2 separate regions of the Homo sapiens genome follow, and region 1 is linked to region 2. A link means that fine-mapping ties the variant in region 2 to the expression of a gene that starts in the linked region. Tissue or cell type: stomach. Region 2 holds a variant in brackets; the other region holds the start of a gene. All regions are shown on one strand. Distances are between the middles of the regions.

Evidence for each region. PIP is the estimated chance that this variant, and not a neighbour inherited with it, causes the effect.
Region 1: it holds the start of ZC3HAV1L, and the variant in region 2 is fine-mapped to the expression of ZC3HAV1L in stomach (GTEx, PIP 0.95).

What each region holds. Positions count from the first base shown.
Region 1 is chr7:139,032,999-139,041,104 of GRCh38, reverse strand. ZC3HAV1L (ZC3HAV1 like) reads left to right here and starts at 5,063. Exons shown (of 5, transcript NM_080660.4): 1 at 5,063-5,452; 2 at 6,427-6,562. The coding sequence starts at 5,088. LOC107986852 (a long non-coding RNA gene) reads right to left here and starts at 4,922. Exons shown (of 2, transcript XR_007060557.1): 1 at 4,734-4,922; 2 at 4,155-4,452. RefSeq lists silencers at 4,771-4,980, 5,231-5,750 and an enhancer at 4,737-5,656.
Region 2 is chr7:138,126,267-138,134,372 of GRCh38, reverse strand. No RefSeq gene overlaps it. Among named protein-coding and RNA genes, the nearest start is that of MIR4468, 6.6 kb to the right of the region's middle. RefSeq lists an enhancer at 1,725-2,301. The variant C/T (reference allele first, on the strand shown) is at 3,780.

The DNA of each region.
Region 1 (8,106 bases), 910 kb before region 2:
CCTGCCACCACGCTCGGCTAATTTTTAGTAGAGATTGGGTTTCGACATGTTGGCCAGGCTGGTCTTGAATTCCTGACCTCAACTGATCCTCCTGCCTCAGCCTCCCAAAGTGCTGGGATTACAGGCACGAATCACTGCAAATGGCCTAGAACTGCTGTTTCTGAAATCCCAAACCTCTATATTCTACCTCTGACCCCAGCCTGCTTTTGAGCTCTCTGGCCCTCCTACATTTCGTACGTCGTCTTTCTCTGCTCACATATAGCCCCTTGCTGTCTTCACTCCTCCCTTACCTAGTCTCCAGCCCATTGTTCAGCCCCTGACCACTCTTTCTTTTCTTCTTTTTTTTTTTTTTGAAACGGCGCCTCACTCTGTCTCCTAGGCTGGAGTGCAGTGGTGTGATCTCAACTCACTGCAGCCTCCGCTTCCCAGGTTCAAGTGATTCTCCCACCTGAGCCTCCTGAGTAGCTGAGATTACAGGTACCCACTGCCATCCTGGCTAATTTTTAGTAGAGATGGGGTTTCAATATGTTGGCCAGGCTGGTCTCGAACTCCTGACCTCAAGTGATCCTCCTGCCTCGGCCTTCCAAAGTGCTAGGATTACAGGCGTGTGCCACCACACCTGGCTAATTTTTGTAATTTTGGGTAGAGACAGGGTTTCACCACTTTGCTAAGGCTGGTTTTGAATCCCCGACCTCAGGTGATCCACCTGCCTCAGCCTCCCAAAGTGGCGGGATTACAGGCATGAGCCACTGCACCCAGCCCCCTGATCACTCTTTCAATTCATACCTCAATCATCTAGAACCTTTGACCTTAAGTCTCACCCACTGGCAAAACCTAAAAGTGAATCAATCAAATTCTGTTCTTACACCTTGAGAGCTTTTAGGAGAATTGCAGCACTGTTTGGATCAATGCCACTACGAATTTGTGGCCTTGGTAAGGCCCTGCCCATGCCCACTGGTCCTACCTGTCAGCCTTCTCCCCTCTCCACAAGTCAGCTTTGTCAAGCCTTTATGGTCTCCTGAAGTGACTCTCCACCATCCATTCTTGGTTTTGCCTTAAACTTAAAAAAACAAAACAAAACAAAGCCTACAAACTTGTCTTTAGATGCTCTAATCCTTGTCTCCTTTCCTGTTGTGTGAATGGAAGAAGCATCTCCCCTCCTGTCGGAGGTTAGTTCCTCTGACGTCTCCCATTCTATCTCACTGCCTATGGACATCCCCCGCTGATTACAATTCCCCTTTCCTTTATATTCTTTCTTTTTTTCTTCTCTCTCTCCTTCCTTTTCTTTCCTTTCCCTTCCTTCCTACCTTTTTCTGTCGCCCAGGCTGGAGTGCAGTAGCACGATCTTGGCTCACTGCAGCCTCTGACCTCTTAGACTCAAGCAATCCTCCCACCTCAGCCTCCTGAGTAGCTGAGACTACAGGCACATGCCACCATGCCTAGCTAATTTTTGCATTTTTAGTAGAGACAGGGTTCTACCATGTTGCCCAGGCTGATCTCAAACTCCTGGACTCAAGTGATTCTCCTGCCTCAGCCTCCCAAAATGCTGGGACTGCAGGCATGAGTCACCGCACCTGGCCTCCTTTATTTTCAACTTTCCATTCTTACTAGCTCTTTCTTTTCTCTTTGTTTTGTTTTTGAGACGGAGTTTCACTCTGTTCTCCAGGCTGGAGTACAGTGGCACGATCTTGGCTCACTGCAAGCTCCGCCTCCTGGGTTCACTCCATTCTCCTGTCTCTGCCTCCCGGGTAGCTGGGACTACAGGCGCCCGCCACCACGCCTGGCTAATTTTTTGTACTTTTAGTAGAGATGGGGTTTCACCATGTTAGCCAGGATGGTCTCGAACTCCTGACCTCGTGGTCTGCCCGCCTCGGCCTCCCAAAGTGCTGGGATTACAGGCGTGAGCCACCGCGCCCGGTCTTACTGGCTCTTTCTACTCAGCATGTAACTATGCTTGTCTCTCCTATAATAAAATACCTTTCTCAGTCTTGTGTCTTCCTCTTATTATCATTACCTTACTTACTTTTAGAAGTAAAGTCCTCGGTTTTTCTATTCTTCTTTTTTTAACCTACAGAAATCTACCTTTTCTCATTATTCCTCTGAAATAAACCTGCCTAGGTTATCACTGTCTACAAGCTTTCCCTTGTAGGAAAGCTCCTCCCTGTAGTATCTCACCATGCTGATCACTTTCTCCTTGAAACTCTCTCCTCTGCGTGTCCATGAATGACTCTCATTTTTCTCTAACCTCTCCTTATCAGTTTATATGTTAGGCTATGTTCTCTCAGGAGCAATCTGACAAGGATTGAATGCACACAGTTTACTTGGGAGGTGATCCTAAGAAACACTGGCAGGGGAATGGGGAGGTAGGGCAAGGAAAGGAAGGAAGACTGTATGGGGAGTGCTAATGAGCAGGTGTGGCTGTGGGCAACTGGGGTTCAGTTCCATTGAGGAAACATTGGGAGACCATGGAATGTACACCTCCAAGTGGTTCCACACGAGGAATGAGTTGGGCTGTTTGATCCATTGTTGGGGAGGAAAAACTTTTCCTGCACTCTCTTATGTTCAGTTCTGAGGGGCTGCAAATTTAACTGACAAGAGAAAAAACATATATGCATATGGCACTGCACAAAAGAAGTGATGATGATTTATTTACCTAACTTAATAGGGGAGAGAGGGGGGCAAAAAGGCTCCTATGGGAAGAACAAAGGGGTTTCTAGGGAACAAACAGGAGATAAGGAAGTTTGTGTTCATAGGGAAGTTGTTTATGCAGGTGCACGTGGTTTTCTATTTCATGTCCATAAACCCCTGGAGAGGGGATGAATGGCAACCTCACTCCCAGAAGATTCTGCTTTTACTGAAATAAAGGAAGCTTCAAGAAGGCTTCTTTTTGCCTCTATTGAATCTTACATGTCTTTAGTTTAAAATAATCCTCATGCCAATTTTAGGGTTGAGAGTGCATCCTCAAACCACCAATTCCCCAACATCCCTGGATGAAGGCTCTTCCTGGAGGTGTTGGCTCCTTGGTAATTCCAGCCTGCCTTTCCTGCTGGCTGCTTCCTCCTTCTGTTGGAAAAAGCTTAGGCAGAGAGTTCAGGAACAAATGCTGAGTGCCAAGGGGACGTAGGCTACTGCCTATTTTTCTCTTCCCCCACTTGCTTATTTAATGTGGGTATTCGCCAAGCTTCTTTCCCCCCGTCCCCCACCTTTTCACACTCTTCATTTTTGCCAGGTGATCTTATCAACTCTCAGTTACCTAATGCTCTGATGTCACGCAAATCTACATCCCTTCCCTTCTCATGTCCCTCAAGGTCTAGACCTGTATACAGAATACACCTGCCTGTTGAGCGTCTTACCTTGGGTTGTCCACTGCAAACTCTCAACATAAATAACACTGGGGTTATAGTCCCTCAAATCCTGTTTATTTTCTGTTATTCCCCACCTCGTCTTGCTTTTCTAGAAATCCATTCTTCTCATTGCTGCCAGGGGTCTTTCTAAAACACCTATCCTACAATATGGCCAGGTACTATTTTAGGTGGTAGGGATACAGCAATGAACAAAACAAGGTTCCTGCTTTCATGAGCCTGAATTCTATAGCTAAATATATAAATACACAATAAAGAAGAAAAATATCAGTGGTAAGTTCCATGCAGACTGGGGAGCTACTTTAGATTTGAGAGGTCAGGAAAGGTTTTGCTGAAGAGAAGACATTAAAGCTCAGAGCTGAATGACACACCTTGAGTGGCACTCAGGAGACATCCACACTTCCCAGATGAAAATCCTTTAGTGACTTCCCAAAGTTCTCGGGATATAAGTCCAAATTTCACAGCATGGCAGAGAAGGTCTTCTGGCATCTGGCCAGTTGTCTTCCTCTCTAGCTTCTTTACATTACATGACATTAATGCATTTAATCCTCACGAGCACCTTGCAAAATAGCAGCTAGGCTGGCTGAGTTCTCTGATGGTCTGATTCATCTTTGTACTGTCACTGCGTTAGTAGTTGGCTCAACAAACGTTCATGAAACAAGCAAGGTGTTGGACAAAAAGCATGGATGCTTAAGGCAGGTCTAGACTGGTGCTGCTCAACAAAAATAAGGTAATCCACATTTGCAATGTAAAATTTCCTCATAGCTACATTAGGAAAGTAGAAGCAACACATGAAGTTGTCATAACATTTTATTTATCCAAATATATCCAAAATATTATGTTTAACATGTGATTCATATAAAGTTAGTGAGATATTTTACATTCTTTTTCTCATTCTCAGTCCTCAAAATCTAGTGTGTGTATTTCACACTTATATCACATCTCAATTCGGACTAGCCACTTTCCAATAAAGCTCAGCAGGCCCCGCGGGGTGGCTCACGCCTGTAATTCCAGTGCTCTGGGAGGCTGAGGCAGGTGGATCGCTTGAGGAGTTCGAGACCAGCCTGGGCAACATGAGGAGACCCCGTTTCTACAAAGCAAAACAAAAACCAAAAAAATTAGTGATGCGAACCTTCGGTCTCAGCTACTCAGGAGGCTGAGGTGGGAGGATCGCTTGAGCCCAGGAGTTCCAGGCTGCAGCGAACTACGATAGCGCCACTGCACTCCAGCCTGGGCGATAACGTGAGGCCTTGTCTCCAAAAATAAAAATACAACAACAACAAAAAATCCCAGAAGTGCTCAGCAGCCACATGTGGCTAGTGGCCACCTCCCGCGAAGCAGCCCGGCCACTCACCTCCTACCACCTTTTACCTATTTCTCCTTCTCCGCAGGCCTCCCTAGCACTACCAGTTGTCTTGTTGGCGAGTCCTTTGTGACTCCCACTATACAAGCCCCTCAAGGCCAGGCTTCGCCCTGAACGGTGCCTGGGCGGAGCAGACGCTCCATCAACGCTGTCCCCGCCTGAGTCCACGTCCAGGGGATCCGCAGGCGCCGTACCCTGCTTCCACGCGCCGGGGCCGCCCCTCGCCCGGCCTCCCGCAGGCCCACCCCTCGCCAGGCCCAGGCCCATCCCCGGGCTGTTCGCTGGAAATCGTGGACGTGACTGGGAGGAGCCTGCCCGCCCCGGCTCGCTGCGCCGCGCGCACAGGGCCCGCGCCAGCGACCATGGCGGAGCCCACAGTGTGCTCCTTCCTCACCAAGGTGCTGTGCGCCCACGGCGGCCGCATGTTCCTGAAGGACCTGCGCGGCCACGTGGAGCTGTCGGAGGCCAGGCTCCGGGACGTGCTGCAGCGCGCCGGGCCCGAGCGTTTCCTGCTGCAGGAGGTGGAGACGCAGGAGGGCCTCGGGGACGCGGAGGCCGAGGCGGCGGCCGGCGCGGTGGGCGGTGGCGGCACCTCCGCCTGGAGGGTGGTGGCCGTGTCCTCTGTGCGCCTCTGCGCCCGCTACCAGCGCGGCGAGTGCCAGGCCTGCGACCAGCTGCACTTCTGCCGCCGGCACATGCTGGGCAAGTGCCCCAACCGGGACTGCTGGTGAGAAGGCGGCGGCGGGCGGGGACTGTGGGCGCTGGCCGCGGGCCTGGCCGTCCTGCTGGAAGCGGGAGCGACGGGAAGGGGGGCTTCGTCCTGCCCCGGGCCGGGGACGCGGGGCTGGACGACCCCCTCCCGCAGGCCTTTCCTGGGCGTCCTCCCCCGCGCTTCCAGCAGCTGGGCGGAAAGGCGCGAAGGTCCTCTCCATGGAGACGTCTCAACCGCCCACGCCAGAAAAGTTGCTGCCCCCGCCCGCCCCCCCGGATCCTGCGCGACGCGGCCGGGTTAAATCCGGACTGGGACTTCGGAGCTCACTTATTCTGGTGATATTTGGCGGGAGGTGGGGGGCGTGGGGCGTCTGAGGATCCCATGAGATCCCTGGACCCTTTAGCCGGAAATCGCTGCTCCCCCATATCCACACACTTGTGCAGAAGCGGGTCTGCGCCCTCTAGGTTTAACAGCGCTGAGCCAGTCTCACCCCAGGAAACAGGGCTGGATGGCTTGGGTGAGGCCCTGTGGTTCCTGACTGCCAGAGCTGGGGTTCGGGGCTGCCTCCTGACCCCAGGCTGTGCTTCACAGCCCCGAATTTTCCTTGGTTGTCTCTAGCCACACACCCCGCCAAAGCGGTGCTGGGGATAGGGGCGCTTTCTTTTTAACGTTGGTGGACTGTGGCAGCTGTTGCCGGGGAGAAGGCCAGGTGCAGTCGCCTACGGAACAGATGTGCATCCTCAGGCGAGGTGGGCGACCCTTGGCTTCAAAGCATCCCTACTGAAAATTCAAATGACCCTGGGAGAGGAGTTCCTTCAACCCAATTTTCTTATTTTCCATCAGTGCTTATTAGGCCATACTATCCCCGGTTTCATGAAAATTACTCAACTTCACATGTATTAAATACATTGAAAGCTGCTCAAGGCAAGGAATTGGACAGACTGGTCCTTCTTCACCTGGGCATCTGACCGAGGGCTTTGTTCTTTTAGGTCTACCTGTACCCTTTCCCATGATATCCACACACCTGTCAACATGCAGGTCCTGAAAAGCCATGGACTTTTTGGTCTCAATGAAAACCAGCTTCGGATCCTGCTTTTGCAGAATGACCCCTGTCTTTTACCAGAGGTGAGTCACCAAGGAGTCACCCTCATGTCACATTTGCTACAAGTACTTTCCCCATTTATTTTTCTTTTGGCTTTACATATTAATTTTAATTGCCTTCGAAGCAACATGATTCAGTTTCAAATGCTTTAAAGGTACCCTTTATAATTGCTATCATGGCGAAATAGTACGTTTGTTTCAGTTTAGCCATACACAAAGAAGTTTTAAAAACAAAATAGTACAAATCCCAAGAGAAAATTGGAACATCAATTAAGACCACCAATTAAAAGCAAGATTTTCTAATCTAGCACAGTGATGCTATCATAGACACCTCCACTTGGCCAGAAGAGGGATGGGAAGAAGGGGAGATGTTGAGAAAACAGAGGATAGTTCATAATTGTGGCCTGATTTTAACTCTAATGCATTTCAGCGTCTAGAAAGGAAGATAGCCACAAGACTAGAGGTAGGAGCTGGAGCCTTTGGTGCAGGTGGCAGAGGCTGCTCTCAAGGCAGCAGAATCTGTACCCAGAAGGCAGTCCTGGAGTTGATCTCAGGAACAAGCAGGTTTCTTCCTGACATGCATAACCTGTTTCATTTCTTCGAGCACTGAAGCCAAGTCTGGTATGTCACGGTTGTGAGCCAGAGGCATTCCAACCAACCATGTTGCCCAAAGTAGATGCAAGCAGTAGCTGAAGCAGGTTATTGGCAGGAAGGGAGAGGAGGGTGGCTGCACCTATGAGGCTGGGTCCAGTCCTTCCTGTCTCAGAGAGAAGGCGTGGTGCCGCTGCTATTTGCCTTTTAATTTTATAGTACTTTTTGATTTATAGAAGTTTAGTGTTTTTATTTTGTCAAATCTATCGAATGTTTTTTTGGTATGCCCTTTTTTAGGATGTATCTTGGGCCCAGCCTCACCTTGTCATATTAGACTACTTCAGTGTTTTGTGAGCAGCTGATGGGTTGGCTGCACTTACAACAGGAGCCTCCCCTGTGCCTCCACTTGTCCCCATCACCTGGGACTGGAAGTAGGTGACATGTGGCACAAAACGTGATCATGTGGGCAGCAGGGACTGTGGAAAAACACAGTGCATGAGGCAAGAATGGTGCCTCACATCTCTTGTATGAAATGCCTGATGATTGCTTTTACCACTCTCTCAATAAAAAAGACAATAGACAGGTAAAGTTTCATGCTGGTGCATTGATGGACAAATTTCTAGAAAAATACAGCTTGTCAAAATGGATTCAAGAAGAAACGGAAAGCCAAAATAGTGTCATAAAAATTTTTAAAATAAAAGCATTAAACAAACCTCAAAGCATTAGTTAGAAGGCTTGCACAAGAAAACATCAGACTTATATAGTTTTTTTTTTTTTGAGACAGGGTCTTACTCTCTCACACAGGCTGGAAGTACCTCGGCTCACTGTAGCCTCTGCCTCCTGAGTTCAAGTGATTCTCCCACCTCAGTCTCCTGAATAGTTGGGACTACAGGCACGTGCCACCATGCCCAGCTAATTTTTGTACTTTTTGGTAGAGATAGCGTTTCACCATGTTGGCCGGGCTGGTCTTATATGCC
Region 2 (8,106 bases):
TAGAGGTGGGGGGTGTGGCTGAAAGTTTCAACCCTCCAATCACATGGTTGGCACCCCTGGCAACTATCCTGTGGTTATCTAGGAGTACTCAGTGATCAGCCATCTCATTAGCATACAAAAATACATATCGCTTTGCAGATTTCAAGGATTTTAGCAGCTTTGTGCCTGGAACCAGGGACAGAGACCAAGTATATATATATTTTATTATATCACAATATTACACTCACTCTCACCACTTTTTTTTTCAACATAGTACTGAAGTCCTAGCCAAAGGAATTGGGCAACATAAAGAAATAAAAGTCATCCAAATCAGAAAAGAAGTCAAAATGTCTCTGTTTGCTGATTACAAGATTTTATGTATAGAACAACCTAAAGATTCTACCCAAAAGTGTTAGAATTAATAAATGAATTCAGTTAAGTTTTAGGATACAGCATCTACATATAAAAATCACTTGTGTTTCTATACTTTGGCAATAAACTATCTGAACAAGAAATTTTTTAAAAAGTCACATTTATAATAGCATCAACGGGAATAAAATAATTAGAAATAAATTTAACCAAAAAGGTGAAATATCTGTATACTGAAAACTATGAAACATAATGAATTAATGAATAAAATTGAAGAAGACACAAATAAATAGGTATTTCATGTTTATGGATCAGAAGAATCAATATTGGAAACTTGTCTATATTACTGAAAGTGATCTATAGATTTAATGCAATTCCTATGAAAATGCCAATGTCATTTTTCATGGAAATAGAAAAAAAATCATAACATTTATATGGCACCTCAAGAGACCCTGAATAGTTAAAGCAATCTTGATCAAGAAGAACAAAGCTGGAGGCTTTGTGTTCTGATTTCAAATTTCATTACAAAGTGATAGTAACTAAAGCAATATGATACAAGCATAAAAACAAACACACATAAACCAATGGGATGTAACAGGAAACCAATAAATAAACCAATACATATATGATCAAGTAATCTTCAATAAAGATGCCAAGAATATACAATGCAGAGAGAATAGTCTCTTCAGTGAATGATGTTGGGAAAATTGGATATCCACATTCAAAAAGAAACAAAAAAATGAAATTGGATTCTTATCTTACACCATGCACAAAAATCAACTCAAACTTGATTAAAGATTTAAATGCAAGATCTGAAACCATAAAATTCCTAAAAGAAAATATAGGGGAAAAGCTCTATGACAGAGGTCTTGTCAATGACACCAAAAGCACAAGCAACAAAAGCAAAAATAAGCAGGCAGGATTATATCAAAGTAAAAAGTTTCTGCAAAGCAAAGGAAACAATCAGCAAAACGAAAAGTCAGCCCACAGAATGAGAGAGAATATGCACAAACCATAGATCCTATAAGGAGTTTATATCCAAAATATATAAGGAACTCTTACAACTCAGTAGTAGAAAAACAACCTGATTTTAAAATGAGCAAAGAACCTGAACAGATATTTTTCCAAGGAAGACATACAAATACTCAACAGAAAAAGGCAATAAATGGCAATTATCAAAACCATGAAAGATATCAAGTATTGGCAAGAATGTGGAGAAACTGGAACTCTTGTACGCTATTGGTGGGAATGTGAAATGGTGCAGCCACTGTGGGAAACAGTATAAAGGGTGCTCAAAAAATTAAAAATAAAACTACCACATGACGCAGCAATCCCACTTTTGGGTATATCCAAAAGAACCACAATCAGGATCTTGAAAAAGGTGGATATCTGGACTCCCATGTTCATTGCAGCAGCATTTTTCATGATAGCGAAGATACAGAAACAATCTAAATGTCTGTCAGTGGGTGAATGGACAAGGAAATTATACATATATATGTGTAATACACACATACTTCATTAGGTAGGTATGATTGGTCTTTGATGACCAAATCAACCTTTAACCCCTCTCCGCTTCCTAGAGGTGGGGGTGGGGCTGAAAGTTTTAACCCTCCAATCACATAGTTGGCAGCCCTGGCAACTATCCTGTGGTTATTTGGAGTACTCAGTGATCAGCCATCTCATTAGCATACAAAAAGACATATCACTTTGTAGATTCCAAGGATTTTAGCAGCTGTGTGCCAGGAACCAGGGACAGAGACCAAATATATATTTATACTTGATATATATATCAAGTATACATACACACACTTATTATAACAAACTATTATTCAGCCTGAACAAAGAAAGAAATCCTACCTTTTGCAACAACATGGATGAATCTGGAGGAGATTTTGCTAATTAAATGTCAGATATAAGAAGATGAATACTTACATGTGGAATCTAAAATAGCTGAACCCATAGAAACAAAGAATAGAAGGGTAGTAACAGGGTTGAGGTAGGGGAGAAATGAGGAGATGTTGGTCAAAGGATACAACCTTGCAGTTAGAAGATGAATAAGTTCTGGAGACCTAAGGTATGGCATGGTGACTATGGTCAATAATACTATATTGTATACTTGAAATTTGCTAAGATAGAGCTTGAGTATTCTCAACACACACACACACACACACACACACACACACACACAAGAAAAATCAAAGGAAAAGGTAACTGTGAGATAATGGATACGTTAATTAGCTTAATTGTGCAAATCATTTCACAATGTATAGGTATATCAAAATATCACATTATATACCTTGAACATATACAATTTTTATATGTCAGTTATACCTGAAGAAAGCTAAAAATATAGGGGAAAAAGCCACCTATGGATTCTTAGCCACACATGAATAATGTTAGGCAGAGATTTCTGAAACAGAAAATCTCCAGTAAGAACAACTGAAGAAAAAAAAAGAAAATATTTAAAAAATTATTTGAGATATAGCCAAGTTTAGTGATGAAATCAAGGTTAGATTAACCAAAAGATTACATAACTATACCTAGGGGATTGTATGTCCATAGTTTCTAGTCTTAGATTATTATTTATAAACATAGTAATTATGAATTTTGGTCTAAATCTTTAGTAAATAAGTTTTTAGACAAAAGGCAACAAAGAAACAAAACATCCCAACAAAGTCTCAGATTCTTCTTCTTCTTTTGTGTAGGTGAGATCTCACAATGTTGTGCTGGTCTTGAACTCCTGGCCTTAAGTGGTTCTCCTGCCTCGGCCTCCCAAAGTGTTGGGATTACAGGCATGAACATCATGTCTGTCCCTTTTCTTCTGATATATATTATAAAAATAAAACAAAAATACATTACTTGTATAAAAGCATGACTAAGCTCAAATTATTTTTGCATAAAAAAGTCTACAAATAACAGAATCTAGCCCTCATGTCGTTTTCCAATAATCTTCAGGATATACCACTTTGCAATCACTGGGAACTAAACAAAGCTGAAGTTTCTTTGCTAAGAAAGTTAGTAAATGCCACAAATAAGAGAAGTCATAATATCCTGGTTTCTCTGGAAGGAGGACATGAATTGAGAAGCAGGTGAGAACCTCCTGGAGTGCTGGAAATATTTTATCTCTTGATCTGGGTGTCAGTGACATGGGTGTTGGTATGGTTTGGATCTGTGTCCCCCCGCAAATCTCATGTCTAATTGTAATCCCCAATGTTAAAAGGGAGACCTGGTAGGAGGTAATTGGATCATGAAGGGGTGGATCCTTCATGAATGGCTTGGTACCACCCCCGTGGTGCTGTTCTAGTGATAGAGTTCTCATGAAATCTTGCTGTTTAAAAGTATGTAGCACTTCTCTCCTGCCCTCTCTTGTTCCTGCTCTGGCTGTATAAGATGAGCCTGTTTCTCCTTTGTGTTTTGCCGTGATTGTAAGT[C/T]TCCTGAAGCCTCCCTAGAAGCTGAGCAGATAGCCTGCATCATGTTTCCTGTACAGCCTCTGGAACCATGAGCCAATTAAACCTCTTTTCTTTATAAATTACCAGTCTCAGGTATTTCTTTATAACAGTGCAGGAATGAACTAATACAAAAATTGGTACTGAAGAGTGGAGCATTGCTATAAAGATACCTGAAAATGTGGAAGTGACTTTGGAACTGGGTAATGGGCAGAGGTTGGAAGAGTGTGGAGGGCTCAGAAGAAGACAGGAAGATGAGGAAAAATTTGGCACTTCCTAGAGACTTGTTAAATTCTTGTGACCAAAAGGCTGACAGTGATATGAACAATGAAGTCCAGGCTGAGGAGGTCTCATATGGAACTGAAGAATGTATTGGGAACTGGGGTAATGGTCACTTTTGCTATGCTTTAGCAAAAAATCTGGCTGCATTGTGCCCCTGCTCTAGGGATCTGTGGAACTTTGAACTTGAGAGTGATGATTTAGGGTATCTGGTGGAAGAAATTTCTAAGCAGCAAAGTATTCAAGATGTGGTTTGGCTGCTTCTCACCACTTATGCTTATATGCATGAGCAAAGAAATGATCTGAAACTGGAACTTATATTTAAAACGCAAGCACAGCATAAAAGTTTGGAAAACCTGCAGACTGGCCATGTGGCAGAAAAGAAAAACCCATTTTTCAGGGGAAGAATTCAAGCAGGCTGCAGAAGTTTGCATAAGTAAAGAGGAGCCAAGTACTAACAGCCAAGACAATGGGCAAGAGGTCTTGAAGGCATTTCAGAGACTTTCGCAGCCACTTCCATCACAGGCCCAGAGGCATAGCAGGACTGAATGGTTTTGTGGGCCAGGCCCTGGGCCCCACTACCCTGTACAACCTTGGGACCCTGCTCCCTCCATCCCAGTCACTCCAGCTCCAGCCGTGGATCAAAGGGGACCAGGAACAGCTTGGGCCTCTGCTTCAGAGGGTGCAATCTGTAAGCCTTGGTGACTTCCATGTGGTGTTAAGCCTTCAGGTGCACAGAATATAAGAGTTGAGTCTTGGGAGCTTTTGCCTAGACTTCAGAAGATGTATAGAAAAGCCTTGATGTCCAGACAGAAGCCCATTGCAGAGGCATAGCCCTCATGGAGAACGTCTACTAGGGCAGTGCAGAGGAGAAATGTGGGGTTGGAGCCCCCACAGAGTCCCCACTGGGGCATTGCCTAGTGGAGCTGTGAGAAGAAGGCCACCATTCTCCAGACCTCTGAATAGTAGAGCTACTGACAGCTCACACCCTGAGCCTGGAAAAGCTTCAGGCACTCAATGCCAGCCCTTGAGAGCAGCTGAAAGGGATGAACTCTGCAAAGCCACAGGGGTGGAGCTGCACAAGGCTTTGGGGGAACCCTTCCACCAGTGTGTCTTGGATGTGACACATGGAGTCAAAGGAGATTATTTTGGGGCTTTAAGATTTAATGACTGCCCTGCTGGGTTTTGGACTTACATGGGGCCTGTGGTCCCTTTATTTTGGCCAATTTCTCCCTTATGGAACAGGAGTATTTACCCAATGCCTATATTAGGAGTGACTAACTTGTTTTTTATTTTACAGGCTCGTAGGTGGAAGGGACTTGCTTTGTCTCGGATGAGACTGTGGACTTTTGAGTTAATGCTGGAATGAGTTAAGACTTTGAAGGACTGTTGGGAGGGCATGATTGTATTTTGAAATGTGAGAAGGACATGAGATTTGGGAGGGGCCAGGGGCAGAATGATACGGTTTGGATCTGTGTTCCACCCAAATCTCATGTCAAATTGTAATCCCCAGTGTTGGAGGTGGGGCGTGGTGGGAGGTGATTGGGGCATGGGGGTGGATCCTTCATGAATGGTTTAACATCATTCCCTTGGTGCTATTCTCTTGATAAGAGTTCTAATGAAATCTGGTTGTTGAGAAGTGTGTGGCACCTCCCCAACCCCCACTGCACTCCCTTGCTCCTGCCTGGGCCATGTGAGATGAGCCTGCTTCTCCTTCACCTCCCGCCATGATTGCAAGTTTCCTGAGGCCTCCCCAGAAGCTGAGCAGATGGCCAGCATCATTCTTCCTGTACAGCCTGTGGAACTGTGAGCCAGTTAAACCTCTTTTCTTTATAAATTACCCCATCTCAGGTATTTCTTTATAGCAATGCAAGAATGGAATAATACAGGTGTGTATATATGTAAAAAATATCACTGAGCTGTACATTTCAGATTAGTGTACTTTATGTACTTTACTGTGAGTGTGTGTATTTATATATACTCATATATATGTATAACAACATAAATTACAAATAGTTTAATATGAAGGCAAAATTCTTTATCAAGGGATGTGAATTCAGTAGTGCTCAGTGTGCACAGTCATCTATTTTCTGTGGGCATCAGGGTGATTCATACAGTTTTCAATATACTTTGTTACCACAAATTTGTAGAGTAGGTAAGGGCCTGTCATGACATTAAAGGTATTATTGTATTCCTGCCACAGCTCATTAAAGTCTCACACTTCGTATTTTCTCTAAGATACATTAAGAAAAATTATCTAAAATTTGAAAGTGGATGAAAAAAAAATGTGTCGACTTTCAGTGTTGTGGGGATTGTCTAGCAGGCTTCCTCAAGGACTGATTCCCCTCAGGGGAAACTTTGTAACTTTTTTTGATTTGCTGTTAATTATTTGTGGTATAGGGTTCCTAAGACCACCCTCGGGTTCAATAATTTGCTGGAAGGAACCACAGAACTCAGAAAAGCTGTTCTACTCATAGTTATGGTTTATTATAGAAAAAGAATTTAGATTTATTATCCAAGGTAAAAGGACAATATGGCAGAGTCCAAGAGAGAGACCAGGCACAAATTTCTACTTGTTCTCTCTCAGTGGAGTTGTATAGATAGTGCTTAACTTTTCCAGCAGTGATGTGTGACAACACGTAAGTAGTATTGTCAACCAGGGAAACTTATCTAAACGTTGAGATCCAGCGTTTTTTGTTTTTTTTTGTTTTTGAGACGGAGTCTCGCTCTGTCACCCAGGCTGGAAGCAGTGGCACGATCTCGGCTCACTGCAAGCTCTGCCTCCCGGGTTCATACCATTCTCCTGCCTCAGCCTCCCGAGTAGCTGGGACCACCAGCACCCGCCACCATGCCCGGCTAAGTTTTTGTATTTTTAGTAGAGACAGCGTTTCACCATGTTAGCCCGGATGGTCTCGATCTCCTGACCTTGTGATTCGCCCGCCTCGGCCTCCCAAAGTGCTGGGATTACAGGTGTGAGCCACCACGCCCGGCCCTAGATCCAGGGTTTTTATTGGGGGTCAGTCATATAGGCTTGGAGTGCCCACATAGCTGACCTTAGTTACTCAGTCTCCAGCCCTTTGGAGTCAAACTGACATCATGTAGCCACCTGCCTCCCCACCCCCCTTCATAAATCACATTGTTAGCATAAACTGTCTAGTGTGGCCCAAAGCCCCAGATAAGCAAAGACATTCTTCTCAGGAATGACATTCCAAGGGCTTAGAGGTTATCTCCCAATAAGTGGTTAATGGCCAGACCTTTCTTTGGAAGGTGCAGGGTTTGGATTTCCCAGGTCAGCTGAGTGAACTGTTTAATAGGGTAATTTACAATTTTGTAAGAGTAGTTATTAACTAATAGAAACCTGGTAGTGATGAAAATGATTCTTGTCCAATAACAATGCAAATGGATCTTTTATTGTAGAGATATAAATTATTAAATCTGGTAGAAAAGATAAACTCAAAAGTTATATAGTTGTATTGCCTTTCAGAAGGCTAAACTGGTTTGGAGCTAAATGAGCAATTTGATCCAAGCATCCTTTCTTTCAGCTGCTGAAACATTTTACTTTCTCCAATTCTCTTGGTATTTCTCTTACCGTTTTTCTGTTTCCATCATTAATGAGATAATTAAATCACTGGTATGTACTCATTTTGTATTTACATAAAAATCATATTTTTGATTTTTTTTTTTTTTGAGATGGAGCTTCGCGCTTGTTGCCCAGGTTAGAGTGCAATGGCGCAATCTCAGCTCACCACAACCTCTGCCTCCAAGGTTCAAGTAATTCTTCTGCCTCAGCCTTCCCGAGTAGCTGGGATTACAGGCATGCGCCTCCACGCCTGGATAATTTTGTATTTTTAGTAGAAACGGGGTTTCTCCATGTTGGTCAGGCTGGTCTCGAACTCCCAACCTCAGGTGATCTGCCTGCCTTGGCCTCCCAAAGTGCTGGGATTACAGGTGTGAGCCACCATGCCCGGCCTGATTTGTAAAAAATTATACTTTGACAGTTTCTTCTCATTTACACCCTCTGATAGGCAGCAAC